Linked DNA regions of Homo sapiens. The protein of the gene in region 1 interacts with the protein of each later gene in a biochemical or structural test. Each region holds a gene or a part of one and is shown in the gene's direction. Other genes may lie near its edges. The genes, in order: SMARCA2, SIN3B, CBX5, NR4A2 and CDX2.

Region 1 (3,521 bases):
ATCTGGATTGGAGCCCTTATTCCACTTTGTCCTTGCTGGGCAACCGGTGGCCATGTCCTTATCCCTGCTCATGCTCAGTTTTCTCATCTATAAAACTGAGGTCATAAAAATGACCTCCAAGCATGTAAAATGTTTAGCATAGGCTGGGCTCCTAGCAAACACTGTTTTATTTCTTTTATTTATTTATTTTTGAGACAGGGTCTCACTCTGTCACCCAGGCCGGAGTGCAGTGGCATGATCTTAGCTCACTGCAACCTCCACCTCCCAGTAGCTCACTGCAACCTCCACCTCCCAGGTTCAAGTGATTCACCTGCCTCAGCCTCCCGAGTAGCTGGAATTACAGGCGTGTGCCACCACGCCCGGCTAATTTTTATATTTTTAGTAGAGATGGAGTGTCACCATGTTGGCAAGGCTGGTCTCAAACTCCTGGCCTCACGTGATCCACCCGCCTCGGCCTCCCAAAGTGCTGGGATTATAGGCACAAGCCGCCACACCTGACCTGCAAACACTTTCTGAATGTTGCCTTTGAATATTAGCCTACTACACATTTTCTACAACACTGCTGCTAATGCCACCTATCTTCTCTTCTTTACCACGGTGGTTCTCAAACCTGGAGGGCTTGAAGAATATGCCAGTGTTTGATCCAGTAGCCTGTTGTGGGGCCTGAGAATCCGTATTTCTGGCAAATTCCCAGGGGGAACTGATGATGTTGGGCCAAGGACCACACCTTGAGAATCACAGCTTTAGAAAATAATTGTCAAACTGAGTTGGAACTGTGAATTTTGCATAGAATTTTTTTTTTGCCAGGGGAAGAGGGGTGATGACAGGGTACTGTCTTTATTTAAAATGTTGATAGTTTGTTTATCATGGATTTGGGGGGCATTAATTTGGGTTTTTAAAATATTTACCTTTTAGGATATTAGTTGATGACTGGGTTTTGGTGCCCCCTTAAATTTTACACCCAAGGTGCGTGCCTCCATTGTTTGACCCTAGTTCCAGCCGTGACTGATAACCCAAATATTCCAAAGGTTAAGGGTGCTGTCAGAAGTTGAAAATTTCTTCTTAGTGAGGCATGTTGGCTCACAAATATAATCCGAGCACTCTGGGAGGCTGAGGCAGAAGGATAGCTTGAGGCTAGGAGTTCAAGACCAGCCTGGATAACATAGCAAGACCCTATCTCTACAAAAATGTTTGTAAAAAGAAATAGCCAAGTGTGGTGGCACGTGTCTATAGTCCCAGCTACTCAGGAAGCTGAGGCAGGAGGATTGCTTAGTCTAGGTGTTCAAGGCTGCAGTGAGCTATGATCATACCGCTGCCCTCCAGCCTGGGCAACAGAACAAAACTCTATCTAAAAAAAAAATTTTAAATATAATTAATAAATATTTTAAAACATAAAATTTCTTCTTTCCTATGTGTGTCTTCACTGTATACCTCTCAAAGTAAAGTACTAAAACCTATGTTTTACAGTATAAGCCGAGCCCAGTGGCTCATGCCTGTAATCCTAGCACTTTGGGAAGCTGAGGTGGCTGGATCACTTGAAGTCACCAGTTTGAGACAAGCCTGATCAATATATTCATAATAAGTACAAAAATCATGCCACAAAACTGTGTGCTATGTTTTTATAAACAAATTTATGTGTGGAAAAAAAGGTAACGTCTCAAAATATTACATGTATGTAGAGATATAGAATTACACGTTTTTTTACCTTTTCAAATATATTAAAAGTATAGACATGCTTTTAAAAAATTATTAGGTTTCTAATTACATGTTAATACAGATGATTTGGAAAATGTAATGATTTTTGTACTTATTATGAACACTTTCCATGGCAATGAGGGTTTTTCTACAGCAACATATATTAATATGTATAATACATATTAACATTCATTAATGAATGTGAATGTACTGTAACGTGTTAATTATACTCTGTTAATCAGGCTGTTTCCCAATAATGCTGTCCTGAGCATTTTACCCATAGATTATTGAAAAGATGTAAAATGTATGTGATGTATACACATTGCCACAGAGAATGGAGTTTCCATTCTTGCCCTCAACATACATAAGCGACTCTTTCCCAACGTCATTTTCTATTATCTATATTCTAGTTAGTGATTCTGCCTTTTATTTGTTATGAATTTAAACTGTCCCAAATTCATGTAGTTATTCCTTTGTTCTAGCATTTGAATACATCTGCATCATCTATTTTAGCTATATATTTCATTATTTTAGAGCCAGATTTCTAATCTGTTTTCAAAGAGCTGCTCTCTTCCCCCATCCATCAATTTAGTTTAATTTCTCAAGCCTTGGTATATTAATTTTCTATTGCTGCTATAACAAATTACCACAAACTTAGTGACTTTAATACAACACAAACTTATTACCTCTTGTGGGTCACAGGTTCAGCATGAGTCTCCCTGGACTAAGATCAATGTGTCAGCAGCCTGCATTCCTTTCTGGATGCTCTAGATAGGAATCCCATTTCCTTGTTCATCCTGGTTCTCAGCAGAGTTCAATTTCTTGTGTTCGTAGAAACAAAGTTCCCACTTTCTTGCTGGCTGCCAGTGGAAGGCTGTTCCCAACAGTGTTCTTTGGCTCATTGCCTCCCCACCCCTACCCCTTGTTCCAACTTTAAAGCCAGCAATGACAGGTACAGTCCTTCTCATGTTGTGTCTCCATGAATCTCTCTTTTGCGTCTTCCTCTTCCACGTTTAAGGATGCAGATGATTAGACTGGGCCCACCTGGATAATCCACTATAATTTCCCCATCTCAGGGTCAGACAATTAACAGTCTAAAATTCCTTTTGCCATGTAATATAACATATTCAGAGGTTCTTGGATTAGGATATGGACATCTTGTGAGGAGATGATATTCTGTCCACCACACTTGGTAGCTAGAACTTTTCATAGGTGCATATGGTTGTATCATAAAACCTTAGGAAGCTGTTTATAGGGCTCACCTAATGGTCCAGTTTATTAGCCTGCTTGTCCATAGTCTGTCAGGTGGGTTTTTTGGAGAGACATATCCACTGACGCGTGCCTGACAGCATTAGAGTGCGCCACACTCCAAGGCACATTTAGATTACGCTCTCAAGGATACATTTTCTTACCCCTATTGCCTGTCTTCTGCCCATTCATTTCCTATACTCCTGTGTCAGGGAGAGCCCACACCTGTATAAATGGACATATTTCACTTTGTCTTTCCACACTGTTTAGAAATGCCCATTATGACTGGCTTCTTTCATCTATTTCTTTCGACGTCCTACATCTTTCCGTTTTCATTAGTAGGTAGGCCTTTTCATCTCCAGTCTCTTCTTCTTCTCCTAAGTTACTCCACCCAAAGCAAAGGGCCCCACCTTATAGCTTGTCAAGCAGCAGACAGTGGGTATAATAGATAGAAGCCTTGGCTAGGAGTACTATTTTGTGTATTAGGATTTGGAATGGAGGAAAGGCAAATGCTACCACCACACTTGAGTTCATAACAGCACAGCTCTCATCTCTTCTGTTAGCTTATGTTTCTGTGG
Region 2 (3,521 bases), on another chromosome or scaffold:
GGATTTCACCATGTTGGCCAACCTGGTCTCAAACTCCTGAACTCAGGTGATCCGCCTGCCTCAGCCTCCCCAAGTGCTGGGATTACAGGCATGGGCCACCATGCCTGGCCTCCACAGCATTCTCGCTGCCATCCCTGGGTTGCCGGCCAGATTAGGCAGCCTCGGAGGGTGGCAGTGAACACCAGCTACTCGGGTTTCCTGGTGATTCCCACATTTGCCCCAGGGGTGGCAGGTGAGGGCTGTTGGGCCCCATGGGGGCATTTGTTGGGGCTCTGTCATGCCAGAGTTTGGCCTGCGTGACTTTGCGCTCTCCAGGAGGCATATGGATGAGGCGGTGTGTCTCCGCAGGTGAAGTGGAGCTGGAGGAGTACTACCCGGCCTTCCTGGACATGGTGCGGAGCCTGCTGGAGGGCAGCATCGACCCCACGCAGTACGAGGACACCCTACGCGAGATGTTCACCATCCATGCCTACGTGGGCTTCACCATGGACAAGCTGGTGCAGAACATTGCGCGGCAGGTGAGCCGGGCCGGGGTGGGGCCGGCCCTGAGGACGGCGGAAATGGCTCTACCATCATTTCACTCCCCGCTCGGGAGGGGGCCCGTGGTCAGCACAGCAAACCTATCCTGTTTTTTCTTAATTGAGACAAAATTCGCATAACGTAAAATTAACCATTTTGAAGTGTACAGTTTGGTAACATTTGGTACATTCACAATATTGTGCAACCACCACCTCTGTCTAGTTCCAGAACATTTCATCTTTCCAAAAGGAGACCCCATCCCCATCAGCAGCCACTGCCCATTCCCCTGCCCCGAGCCCCTGACATCCAGTCAACTGCTTTCTGCCTCTGTATTTCCCTCGTGCTTCATTCCTTTTTATGGCTCTGTAATACTCCATTGCGTGGGTAGCTACGTTTTGTTTCTATCTCTTGGTGGACATCTGGGCTGTGGCTGCCTTATAGAGATTGTGAGCAATGCTGCTCTGAACATTTGTGTACAAGTTTTTGTTCCGTGTCCCTGTTGACAAACCTTTCTTGAGGTTAAATTGACAACATGGAAAAAACCTTAACCCACTTATCCTGAGGGAGGGTGGGAATAGTGATTTCATCTGCGTTGGTTTTAGTAGTAGCAAAAACCCAGGCCCCACTGAATGTCAACACAAGGAAACTGGTCACGTAAATATAAACAGCAGACGTCCCAGACGAGCTGGGTGTGGTTCCAGGACATGGGTCCTGCCTGGTTTCTGCCAGAATCATTGTTCATGGTGACCTCCATTTCCTGGTCACCAAGTAAGGCTGTTCATCATAAAGTGGAAAAAAAGCTGGAAAAAAAATAATGCCATTACTCTCCCACCCAGACACAGCCACGAGAAGCATTTCAGACAGGACGTTTCCTTCCAGGTTTTAAAGACTGCTTAATGGAGCTAAAATACCCAAGCAGAAAAGTCCCCAAATTTGAAGGGGGCAGATGGATGGGCTTTTCATCAACAGAACCCCTGCCCCTGTGTCCCCACCCAGCCACCTGCCACCCATGGACACCCACAACCCTGATTTCTTTTTCTTCTTCTTCTTTTTTTTTTTTTGAGACAGAGTTTTGCTCTTGTCTCCCAGGCTGGAGTACAATGGCACAATCTCTGCTCACAGCAACCTCTGCCTCCTGGTTTCAAGCAATTCTCCTGCCTCAGCCTCCTGAGTAGCTGAGATTACAGGTGCGCACCACCACGCCTGGCTAATTTTTGTATTTTTAGTAGAGAGGGGGTTTCACCATGTTGGGCAGGCTGGTCTCGAACTCCTGACCTCAGGTGATCCGCCTCCCTTGGCCTCCTAAAGTGCTGGGATTACAGGCGTGAGCCACCGCACCGGCATCACAACCCTGATTTCTACAGAGAGGTAGATCCCTGGCCTCGAGCTGTGTGTTAACAGCAGCACACAGCGCCCAGCCGCATCCTGGGAGCGTCATTCTGTGAGATTCCTGTGTTGAGATGAACCGGCCAAGGATTCCGAGGAACGACCCCCGATTCCGTCCACCTGTCTCCTGAGGACAGGCATGGGCGGTGCCCCGTGGGTGTGTCTGCGGTGGCCGTCTATGTACATTTCTGCTGCTGCCCTTGGGGTAAGGCACAGAGAGGTGTGTCCCGCTGATGGCAACTTTCCGTTTCCTGGGTCACTCGTACCAGTGCTGTGCGAGGCCGCACTCTGTGTCCTCCCTGGGGCTCAGGGGCGTCTCTCCATCAGCTGGGAGTTCAAATCTCGGTGGGCTCACGTTGCATTTCCCTGATGGCAAATGTGGCTGGGGCCCTGTCCTTTCATGGCCGTTGGGACATCTTTTCTCATGGAAAGCTATCCACGGTGTTTGCGCCTGTTTCCGTTGCGTCTGCCTTGTTGGTGACTGGGAGGATTTCTGTGTCTGGCCATGAGGACTTAGTGAAACCCATAGCTGCGTTCTGACACCTTCGCTTCAGCCCCCTCCACTTTCCCTCCGTGTGCCCGAAATGGGTCCCTGCCCATCACCATCCACAGCAGTGGCCACTCCCCAGGTGAGGGAAACACGCACGGGGCAGCCTGGAGAGAGGACACCCAGGGCCCAGCACATGGTGTTGGGGAAGTGACGCAGGGGACGCCAGGGGGCTGGCAGTCTGTCCCCTCCCCCCCCCCCCAGGCTGGGCACCCCTCATGGGCCATGGCTTCGGGGACAGCAACCTTGCTTGTGACACCAGGAGATTGGACCAGATGGTTTATGGAAAGCATTGATTAATGCTTTAAAAAAATCCCCCCCTTCCATAAACAACTCCTCTAGAACCTGTTAAAAACAAAGCAATGAAAATGGGGCTGTCTGGCTGGAGCTGTAGTGAGAGCCACATGCTGCCCTGCTGTCCCAGCTGTGGCTGCACCACACCCCAGCTGCATCTCCCTGGGCCAGGTGCTCACTGCGGGCCCCTCCACACTGTTTGTAACCTGCCTCGAGGCCATGTCTGGACTCTGCCTCCCTTTTTCTTAAAAATTAGCATTGCTGTTTTTTAGCAGTAGCAGTTGGCATTCAGTGGGCACTTGCTGTGTGCCAGGTACTGTCTGAAACCTATGCGTGTCCAGGTGTTATTGTATCCATTCAACAAAGCTGCACATGGAACCCCCAAGGAGTGTGGTCCCCTGACCAGGGCCTGGGCTGTGCAGGCGGGTGATTCACACAGCCCTGTCTGCCCCACGATCCCTGCTGTTTCCATTCCTTCCTTCTTCAGTGCAAAGGTAAAAGGAGTAGCAGTGTATTTACAGCCAAGCATTTAGGGGAAAGGAACAGCCTGCACTCAGGCCACCTTCAGCTCATTCCTGGGTTTGCTTTGGAACATATTTTTCCGTGTCTTTTCTGTGTGTTTCTCACACCCGGGCAGGGTTTGCTGGTCTGGCCTGGTCTGTTTTGTTCAGGTCTGGTCTGGTCTAGTTTTGGTCTGGTCTGGTCTGGTCTAGTTTTGGTCTGGCCTGGTCTGGTCTGGTTTGGTTTTGGTTTGGTCTGGTTTGGTCTGGTCTGG
Region 3 (2,362 bases), on another chromosome or scaffold:
TTAAAGATGTAATTTTATTTTCAAAACATCTATAACATGACTTTCAGAAGCAGTTCATTTTTCCAAGATTCCTCACATTATACTAGATAAATAATAGGCCCTCAGTTAATACCCTTCAGTTATTGAATTAATCTAGTTTGTGGAATGAGGTGTATCCTGCCAACTTCCCTCTGCTCCCAAGTACACTCTGAGAGGTAAAATGCTCTGGGAAATGGAACAAGAATCGAGTGGATGCTGACTCTGTGTGCCCACCTCCTCAACTGATTGATAATGGTTGACCTTGGGCAAGTCACTTCTTTCAATGCCTCAGTTCCCCATCTGTCAAATGGGGTTAATAATACTGACCTACCTCACAGGGGTGTTGTTGTGAGGCATTGTAAATCAAAGTTAATAGAATACTTCAGGGTCCTCTGTGGAGGATGTCTTGAGCCAGAGTTTAAGCCTGACACACAGGCTTTGGTCCTCACTGAGCTGTCTCCAAGACTGGAACTACTTAGTGACTCGGCAAATTTTCTGCCCCCCACCCCTCATCAAAGCTGCTAGTTCAGATGTTGACAGTGTTTTCATGAATGTTGGAATCTTACTAGTCCAGACTTACTTAGGATGTTGTTGGGGAAGGCACTTGGGATTTTCTGTGTCTTGCATTCACAGAGGGAGGCCATTTCAGATTCAAGAGCATTGGATTAGGGAATCGTGAGGCAGGGATGCTACTGCGTATTTCTCTCTGCAGGTTGGGGATTAAAGTTCCTTTCCCCATGGGTTTGAAGCAGACTCAGACTGTCTCAGGATCAAAGCAACCCTCAATGGTTTTGATTTATGTCATTGCTTACCACTCCCCAACCAATCCCAGGACAGCTGGGTCACTGTACCCCTTTGTGGTATCTGTACCTGGGCCTCTCCTTCCTCATAGGGACCAGCTGATTGAATAAATGTGACCACCTTATTTCCACCCCCCACCCCCAAAAGCTACATTGGAATTATTTTTCCTAGAAATGTGTATAACACTCAGAATTGGGCATTGATCCTTAAAGCTTCATCCCATTCACCGTATTCAACATCTGTCATCTCTTAGTGTCTGCAGTCTGAACCTAACCTTGACCTTTTTTCCCTCTGGTTTGAGAAAACTTTGGACACTATTTCTACTTGGCCAGGTGTGGGCTCAAGAGCCTTACTCTTTCCATCTCAGTTTAGGGGCGCAGCCAGCTCCTCTTCCCAATAGGGCTCTTTCTGCTTTCCCTCTCCTTGGCCCTAGATTTGTAATCCATGAAAAAGCACAAGGTCCTGGCTCCTTGCGGTCACATTCTGGTTCTCTGTGTTTTGTGGACTCTGCTCTCACTGTTCACCCAGCACTAGCAGTACCAGATGGTTCTGTGGAGTCCTGGGGAATGGAGAGAGCACAGTCTGACTCCCTGCCAAGTAGCCAGGAGTTGACTTGCCCATGGTCCGCTGGCTTTCCCACCACTTCCTACAGGATGGGATCTAAGAGACTCAAGAGCTGGGTTTCTTTCAGCACTCTGTACTGTCCCAAATAGCAAACAAATCACTTTGTAGCCAGATTTCTGAATGGAAATGAGAAATTGAATTCTCCATGGACTTTTAGGTTTATGGGGGAGTTTTAGCTGTGTTTCTTGGTTTTATTTCAGCCAAACATGTCTGCTTTTGATTTTTTTTTTAAAGTATAAGTGGTCTATATATATGTTCACCTTTTAAATGTAAATGTTTAAAAAGTAAGCATTTATGTGTTTCCATAACTGACATCTGATGCAGACCTCATTCTCTCCCCCTCTTCTACCCTCCTCTTTTCCCCCTTTTCATACTCTTGTATTGGTTCTAATAAATGGTTGCTTTTCAAATATGGATTCTGAGTGGTGGTTTAAAGATCTGGGTCTTATGCCCCTTCTTTAATTTGGGCCCTGGAGTGTCAGCTCAATTTCTGAAAGAGCAACAAGACTTGGAGAACATGGGCTTCTTTTCTAAGGATTATTGGTCTCTGACTTTCTGCAAATAACCACAGGTTGGCGCAAGCCTGAGGAAATAAGATAATGCGTATCCTGTTTCCTACTCTTATTTCCTTAACTGGTTCAGTGTGTACCTTTCCTGGTTTCCATGCTCTTCTCTGCTCCTAATGGTTCAGAGAATAAATATTAGGCTTCAGCAACCTAGGGATCCCTGGAAGAGTCATCTCATGGCTATTAGAACTTATGGAATACCACATCAAGCAAATGCAGTCTAAATCAGGTTTGAAAATATGTGAATTTGTAAACTTTGTATTTTATCTTTCTGATTTGCTTCACAAATACCAAAGAAACTTCTCTGAGGATGGAAGGCTTGCAGGTCAGGAACATGGTGTGAGGTCAGTTGG
Region 4 (2,913 bases), on another chromosome or scaffold:
CTCCACAACTTCCACCAGAACTACGTGGCCACTACGCACATGATCGAGCAGAGGAAAACGCCAGTCTCCCGCCTCTCCCTCTTCTCCTTTAAGCAATCGCCCCCTGGCACCCCGGTGTCTAGTTGCCAGATGCGCTTCGACGGGCCCCTGCACGTCCCCATGAACCCGGAGCCCGCCGGCAGCCACCACGTGGTGGACGGGCAGACCTTCGCTGTGCCCAACCCCATTCGCAAGCCCGCGTCCATGGGCTTCCCGGGCCTGCAGATCGGCCACGCGTCTCAGCTGCTCGACACGCAGGTGCCCTCACCGCCGTCGCGGGGCTCCCCCTCCAACGAGGGGCTGTGCGCTGTGTGTGGGGACAACGCGGCCTGCCAACACTACGGCGTGCGCACCTGTGAGGGCTGCAAAGGCTTCTTTAAGGTGAGCAATGGCGGGAGCGGAGTAGGCAGGTAGGGAGCCCCTAGTGCCCGGGACCTCGGAGTGTGCCCTCTGCCTTGGTGCCAGTAGCCCAGCCCCAGCTCTCCCGGGACTGCCCAGCTCTCCGGGGTCCGCCGAAGCTGCCCTGCAGGAGACCATGGGCTGCGGCGGGGACTTCCGGGTGTCTGAGAAAGGGAAGCAGAAAGACTGGGAGGCCAGGGTCGCATCCCCCTCGCATTCAGCCGACCCGGCTGGCCCCCGCCCGAAGTTGCTGGAGCCGGAGTTGGAAGAGGGTCATTTGCATGTGCTAGGAGCTGTCTTCCCTGTTCAGAATGAAATTGGTTAGGACAGAGAACCGTGTCTGAGCTAACCAAGTGGAACAGAATTCCCTATGGTCAAATTAAGTGATCTCTTTATTTCGCCATCCTGATTGAATAATCTTATCATTTTAAATAGAGAAGGTCTCCAAGGAATGTAAATAATATGAATGCCCACGGATTTGTATTTACTGAGCGTCTCCTTCTCCTTCTCTTGGCATATAAAACACAGCAAGGAGCGGCAAGGTTAGCTCAAATGTTAACGCTATCAATTTTCTTCTGTTAAATGCCCTGGGGGAGGAAAAAAGAAAAGAAAGAAAGAAAAGGAAGAGAAAAAAATAAAATGGAATTGTGTGTATGTGTTTGTTTGTGGGGAGGAATCGTAGACCCCAGTCACATAACAGAAATTTTCTCCGAGTTGCCTGATTTTCAAAAGAAGAAAAAAAATGTTGGTCTATATTGTCTCCTTTTGCAGCGCACAGTGCAAAAAAATGCAAAATACGTGTGTTTAGCAAATAAAAACTGCCCAGTGGACAAGCGTCGCCGGAATCGCTGTCAGTACTGCCGATTTCAGAAGTGCCTGGCTGTTGGGATGGTCAAAGAAGGTAGGCTGAGGGGAGCTGCCGACCCTCCAGTTTGCGCCTTTAGGAAACCACTGCTCATACTCCAGCATCACGTTCCACTTCCCGGTGCTGGGGATCTCCGACTCCCCCTCAGTATGGCCTCCAGGACCCTGCAGCTGCCTGCTTGCCCGGCCTTCCCTAGAGAAAGCCGCCAGGCCCTTCTCTCCTTTAACTATACGACCCATTTGGAGGAAGACATAAAATAACCCCGCATTTTTTAATGCTTCTAGTCAGTGAAGGCTTTACAAGCACTGGGGCCCTCAGCCGCTCAGCCTGGTGCCCCGCGGCTGCGGCCTTCCCCGGGGAGGGACCGAGGCAGCAGCTGGGCCTGGGCTCGGAAAAGCGGCGCTAACAGGGCTCTTCCTTTGCAGTGGTTCGCACAGACAGTTTAAAAGGCCGGAGAGGTCGTTTGCCCTCGAAACCGAAGAGCCCACAGGAGCCCTCTCCCCCTTCGCCCCCGGTGAGTCTGATCAGTGCCCTCGTCAGGGCCCATGTCGACTCCAACCCGGCTATGACCAGCCTGGACTATTCCAGGGTAAGAAGCTGGCGGGGGGGATATCATGTGGACAAACCGACAGATGGGCAGGACCCCTCCCCACATCCGTCATTAACTCTCAGATTCAACGGGGGTAAAGAAGGCAAGCAAGGCTGTATATGCCTCGCAGCTCTGGCCAGGGCCTCAAGATTCAGATCTTCAGACAATCCATGTAGCTGGGGGCATAGACATGAGGACAGGATGGAGGAAGGAGGAGAGGGACACGCCACAGGGTTTGAAGCTGTGTGAATTCCCACTACCCCACTACCCCATCGCCCCTCCTCTTCCATATACACCAGTGCCTCTACCATGAAATCCAGGGGCTGTGCAAACTCTCCCCCTTCCCAATCTACTTTATTCCCAGTCCTCCATAGAGATAGATGCTTTAATCCTCATCCTTCCTGGCACTGTGCTGGGGAAGGATGTGGGGGCCTGTCTGGGGGTCAGGGAAGGGAAGGAGAGGGTGTAAAGAATGCCAGTGGGGTGGGGGATCAAGTGGTCAGATCCTTTTTACTCCAGCTGTGAAAAATATGCGGGCTTTAATTGGAGGAAGTATGTTGAGCAAACCTGGTAGGGACTGCAATTTTATTAAGATTTGCAAAAGGGCGTCTCAGCTCGAGGCCCACTCTGGGACTAGCATGAATACTAACATGTCAATTGTTTTGTGGAGATAAGAGTGAACGTTTCCCAGGGCTGGATGGCACTGTATTTAGTCTGTATGGAAATGGCAATTTACATATTTAAAGCAGCGACCTCGTAGCACCATCCCTAATTGAATTAATTGCCCCGGAACATCTAATTTCCTTACTGGTCAGAGAGAGGTTTAATTGTTATAAAAACCTGGCTCCCCTATTAGAAACGGGGTTAGCAATTTCACGGGTTATATATTTTAGAGAACCTCATTAAGTGCTTTTTAAAATGAAATTCCAGTTCCAGGCGAACCCTGACTATCAAATGAGTGGAGATGACACCCAGCATATCCAGCAATTCTATGATCTCCTGACTGGCTCCATGGAGATCA
Region 5 (4,037 bases), on another chromosome or scaffold:
GCAGGCCCACTCCACGCGGTTGCTGAAACCGAGCTGGGCGCGCGCGGGGGCCGAATCTCGCCGCCTCCGCGCTCCTGTCGGGGCAGCTCCCGATCCCGGGCTGCGCGGCTTCGGTCCCCAAGACGGCCACTTCCAGCCCTAGGCCCCTTGGCCGCAGCGCTTCCCAAACCAAGAGAGATCCTTTCTCAACTCAGAGCTTTTCATTAGCAGTCGTTAATAATGGCCCTGAGTTGCCTTATCATCTCCTGGAAATGAGAAATAAATTTCTTCGGAGAACGTTTCCCTTTGTAAAGGACAGAGAGTTTTAAAGATACAGGTATGATGTAAGACACATAAATACCTAGGTAAGCATTAGCAGAAATTCTCTTTTCCTTATATTTAAGTATAATAAACATACAAGTGTAGCTCAATGAATTTTCACAAACTGACATTCTGTGTAACCAGCAGCCTAAGAAACTGCTTTACCAACGATCCCCTAGCTCGCCTCCAGTTATGCACGCCAATAACCACTAGCCTAACTTCTACCACATGCCCATTACTTCTGTAGTTTAAAACTTCTGATTCTTGAATGTAAACGTTTAACAATAAATCGCTTGAATTTAACTCAAATTTCAAATGTAAGATGAAGTCAGAGATGCAGCCTGAATCTAGGATCATAATTTGTCTTGTGCGGAGGGCGAGTAATTTCCTTGGGCAAGAAAATAACTGGAGGTGACAGTTGTTTGGGGCTGCAGTCGTCCGGGCCAGGAGCACAGGGCGGGAAGGAATGGCCCATCTCTTAGGGCTCTCTGCTTGTCACCTACCAGGTTGGTCAGAAACGTTCTCATCAAAGCAATGGTTCTCTTTTCTTTTCTCTTTGGGACAGAAGGAGTTTCTTGACCGCCCTCTTCCCTGCAAATGCATAAACAACCACTGCTCCTGTCTCCAAGCTCAGATTCCTACCAAGATAGCCTTTTCTCTTCCCCTCTCTTTTGTAAGTCTCTTGATTTCATTCTTTGAACCTGTGATTGGAGGTTAAAGTGCACCAGGTTGGAAGGAGGAAGCTCTTAACAATAAAGGTTTGAATATTTAGCTGTGTCAGGTCGCTGCCCTCTCACGAGCCTCCCTCCCCTTTATCTTTTAAAATGCAAATTATGTTTCGAGGGGTTGTGCGTAGAGTGCGCGCTGCGCCTCGACGTCTCCAACCATTGGTGTCTGTGTCATTACTAATAGAGTCTTGTAAACACTCGTTAATCACGGAAGGCCGCCGGCCTGGGGCTCCGCACGCCAGCCTGTGGCGGGTCTTCCCCGCCTCTGCAGCCTAGTGGGAAGGAGGTGGGAGGAAAGAAGGAAGAAAGGGAGGGAGGGAGGAGGCAGGCCAGAGGGAGGGACCGCCTCGGAGGCAGAAGAGCCGCGAGGAGCCAGCGGAGCACCGCGGGCTGGGGCGCAGCCACCCGCCGCTCCTCGAGTCCCCTCGCCCCTTTCCCTTCGTGCCCCCCGGCAGCCTCCAGCGTCGGTCCCCAGGCAGCATGGTGAGGTCTGCTCCCGGACCCTCGCCACCATGTACGTGAGCTACCTCCTGGACAAGGACGTGAGCATGTACCCTAGCTCCGTGCGCCACTCTGGCGGCCTCAACCTGGCGCCGCAGAACTTCGTCAGCCCCCCGCAGTACCCGGACTACGGCGGTTACCACGTGGCGGCCGCAGCTGCAGCGGCAGCGAACTTGGACAGCGCGCAGTCCCCGGGGCCATCCTGGCCGGCAGCGTATGGCGCCCCACTCCGGGAGGACTGGAATGGCTACGCGCCCGGAGGCGCCGCGGCCGCCGCCAACGCCGTGGCTCACGGCCTCAACGGTGGCTCCCCGGCCGCAGCCATGGGCTACAGCAGCCCCGCAGACTACCATCCGCACCACCACCCGCATCACCACCCGCACCACCCGGCCGCCGCGCCTTCCTGCGCTTCTGGGCTGCTGCAAACGCTCAACCCCGGCCCTCCTGGGCCCGCCGCCACCGCTGCCGCCGAGCAGCTGTCTCCCGGCGGCCAGCGGCGGAACCTGTGCGAGTGGATGCGGAAGCCGGCGCAGCAGTCCCTCGGCAGCCAAGGTAAGCAGAGGCTGCGCCCCTTCGGAGGGTGCTTGGGAAGGCGCGGGTCGAGCCAGTGGCTGCTGCGCGTCGCGCGTCCAGTGCGCACAGGGGCGTCCCGGGCTGTCTGGGAGCTCGGCGCCAGGAGGGGCACGGCCCGGAGACAAATTCGGGGGCCTCTGGCCCGTCGGGGCTTCTCTGACCTACTGAGCCTGGGAGTGAATATTCTGAGTCTCAACACCGTGTTCAGGCGTCCTCTTTCCAAGAGCTCCTCATTCGCAACCCCGGGACACCTTCGGGAAGCTCCGGGGAATGTCGGCGTGAGCACTGCTGGACGCCGGCAGAATCGCGTCCTCCGGCACTTGCTGCGGCATGCATTCCTTGCGTGGCTCCTGGCCGCCGAGGAGAGAGGGAGGCTCGAACCTTCTTGGGCTAGGTCTAGGCCATTTATCTCCGCTCTCTCTTTCCCCATCTGAGCCATCTAAGAAGAGAAGTGACCTGGGGGGGTCGGAGGATGGCTAGGCTGTGTGTGGGACCGGGTTTGGCCACTCGGGCCAATTCAAGGTACAGCGAGCAGGCAGACCAGGGAGAGCTGCTGTCGCTGGGAAGAAGGTGCTAGCCCCAGCTGCTAAGGCGACGGGGGCGCGCCCCGTCTCTGAACCTCTGACCTGTGAAGGGGTCATTTCAAGCAAAAGCTGGAAGGCTAGGGGCAAGAAGCCTAGGGGCAGGCGTCTGCGGAGAGAGCAGGGAGACGGGGAGGAAACCCTGGTGGGAATTAAGCCGCCGCTCCAGGTAGGGGTCATTTCTCCCAAAGCTTCCTTTCAAGGGTGTCAGGGATGTCTGTGAGTGTGTGTGTGCAACTGAAAAAGATCCTAGGTTTGCCGGACTGTGGGGCTCATTGACTCTGGGTCTGCCCCTTCTGGTGTTCGAGTGTGCCTAGAGGTGGCAAGGAAGTGCGGTGGGGAGAGTCCTAGTTGAGTGCCCCTTTTAAAGTCTTTCCCCAGCCCTCAGCGCTTCCGCTTTTCTTGCTTCGCTCCTTGATGCCCCAATTGGGCAGGCACGCTGGTTATGGGCACTTTGCAGAAGTTTATAGCCAATTACAACTGTATAAATCAAAGCGCCCTTTGGGGGCTGTCTCTGGGCATCGGTTTCTGCGTCACTGTGCACATGCTAGGGAGAGTCCTGGTGGGAATGCCGCCGACCGGGGAGAAGGCCACAGATCAGCCTCGGGTGAGCCTCAGAGCTTTGGCTTGGTCCCTTCTCCTAGAGGAGGCGCCTTTCTCCTAGCAGGGGCTCCCAGATCCTGGCTCCCAAAGACCCACTTTCTACAGCCCCTGTCTGGGGCGCGGTTGGCGGGGGTGGCGCACGCCCTAAGGAAGACCTTTGCGTGTCCCGGGAGAGCGGCCGCGGGGTGAGGGCCGGGAAGGGGGCGGGAGGGAAGCCGCCAGAGCCCAGGCCGCGGGGTCAGCAGATGAGAGGCCGCTGTGAAGTCCTGCGCCGAGGTGGCAAGGCCGCAGTCGGCGCCGGGTGCCCTTGTGATGTTAATGTGGGGTGGCCGCAGCCCGCGGGCCGGAGCCGGGCTCCTCTGCGGAGCGTCATCTGTCAAGGTGTGGGGGTGGAGGGGGGGACGCGGCCTGGCTTGCTTTGATATACACCTTCCCAGCCCTGCCATTGTCTCTTTTAGGGCCCGGAAAGAGGGTGGTGACTTTCGCAGTCAATAATGAATTCTGACAAGTCCCTCTCATCCCTCCCCTCCATAGCCCCGCTCCTAGGTTCCCAGGGGGTGTGGGGCGCCTCCAAGGCCCTTGGGGCATGGGTCGAAGAGCGCTCAGGGTCTGGTCATCGCGTTGCCCGGCACGTCCGGGACACTGAAGGGGCAGCACCCGAGCAAGGGTCGCTCCGAGACACTTCCAGGCGAGTCTCCCTCCCGGGGTGTTCGGCTGAGGGAACTGCCCTGCGCCTCAGCTCCGGAGGTGT

What was found.
Region 2: the proteins of SMARCA2 (region 1) and SIN3B form a complex in vitro, tested with the Homo sapiens proteins (one study listed by BioGRID).
Region 3: the proteins of SMARCA2 (region 1) and CBX5 form a complex in vitro, tested with the Homo sapiens proteins (one study listed by BioGRID).
Region 4: the proteins of SMARCA2 (region 1) and NR4A2 form a complex in vitro, tested with the Homo sapiens proteins (one study listed by BioGRID).
Region 5: the proteins of SMARCA2 (region 1) and CDX2 form a complex in vitro, tested with the Homo sapiens proteins (one study listed by BioGRID).

What each region holds. Positions count from the first base shown.
Region 1 is NC_000009.12:2,186,326-2,189,846, forward strand, and holds part of SMARCA2 (SWI/SNF-related matrix-associated actin-dependent regulator of chromatin subfamily A member 2), read left to right. Parts: intron 1-3,521. UniProt on the Homo sapiens protein: ATPase involved in transcriptional activation and repression of select genes by chromatin remodeling (alteration of DNA-nucleosome topology).
Region 2 is NC_000019.10:16,870,881-16,874,401, forward strand, and holds part of SIN3B (paired amphipathic helix protein Sin3b), read left to right. Parts: intron 1-348; coding exon 349-518; intron 519-3,521.
Region 3 is NC_000012.12:54,230,437-54,232,798, reverse strand, and holds the end of CBX5 (chromobox protein homolog 5), read left to right. Parts: 3' UTR 1-1,857; downstream 1,858-2,362. UniProt on the Homo sapiens protein: Component of heterochromatin that recognizes and binds histone H3 tails methylated at 'Lys-9' (H3K9me), leading to epigenetic repression. In contrast, it is excluded from chromatin when 'Tyr-41' of histone H3 is phosphorylated (H3Y41ph).
Region 4 is NC_000002.12:156,326,830-156,329,742, reverse strand, and holds part of NR4A2 (nuclear receptor subfamily 4 group A member 2), read left to right. Parts: coding exon 1-420; intron 421-1,209; coding exon 1,210-1,339; intron 1,340-1,728; coding exon 1,729-1,892; intron 1,893-2,822; coding exon 2,823-2,913. UniProt on the Homo sapiens protein: Transcriptional regulator which is important for the differentiation and maintenance of meso-diencephalic dopaminergic (mdDA) neurons during development.
Region 5 is NC_000013.11:27,966,510-27,970,546, reverse strand, and holds the start of CDX2 (homeobox protein CDX-2), read left to right. Parts: upstream 1-1,231; 5' UTR 1,232-1,540; coding exon 1,541-2,081; intron 2,082-2,253; exon of another isoform or gene 2,254-3,100; coding exon of another isoform or gene 3,101-3,290; intron 3,291-4,037.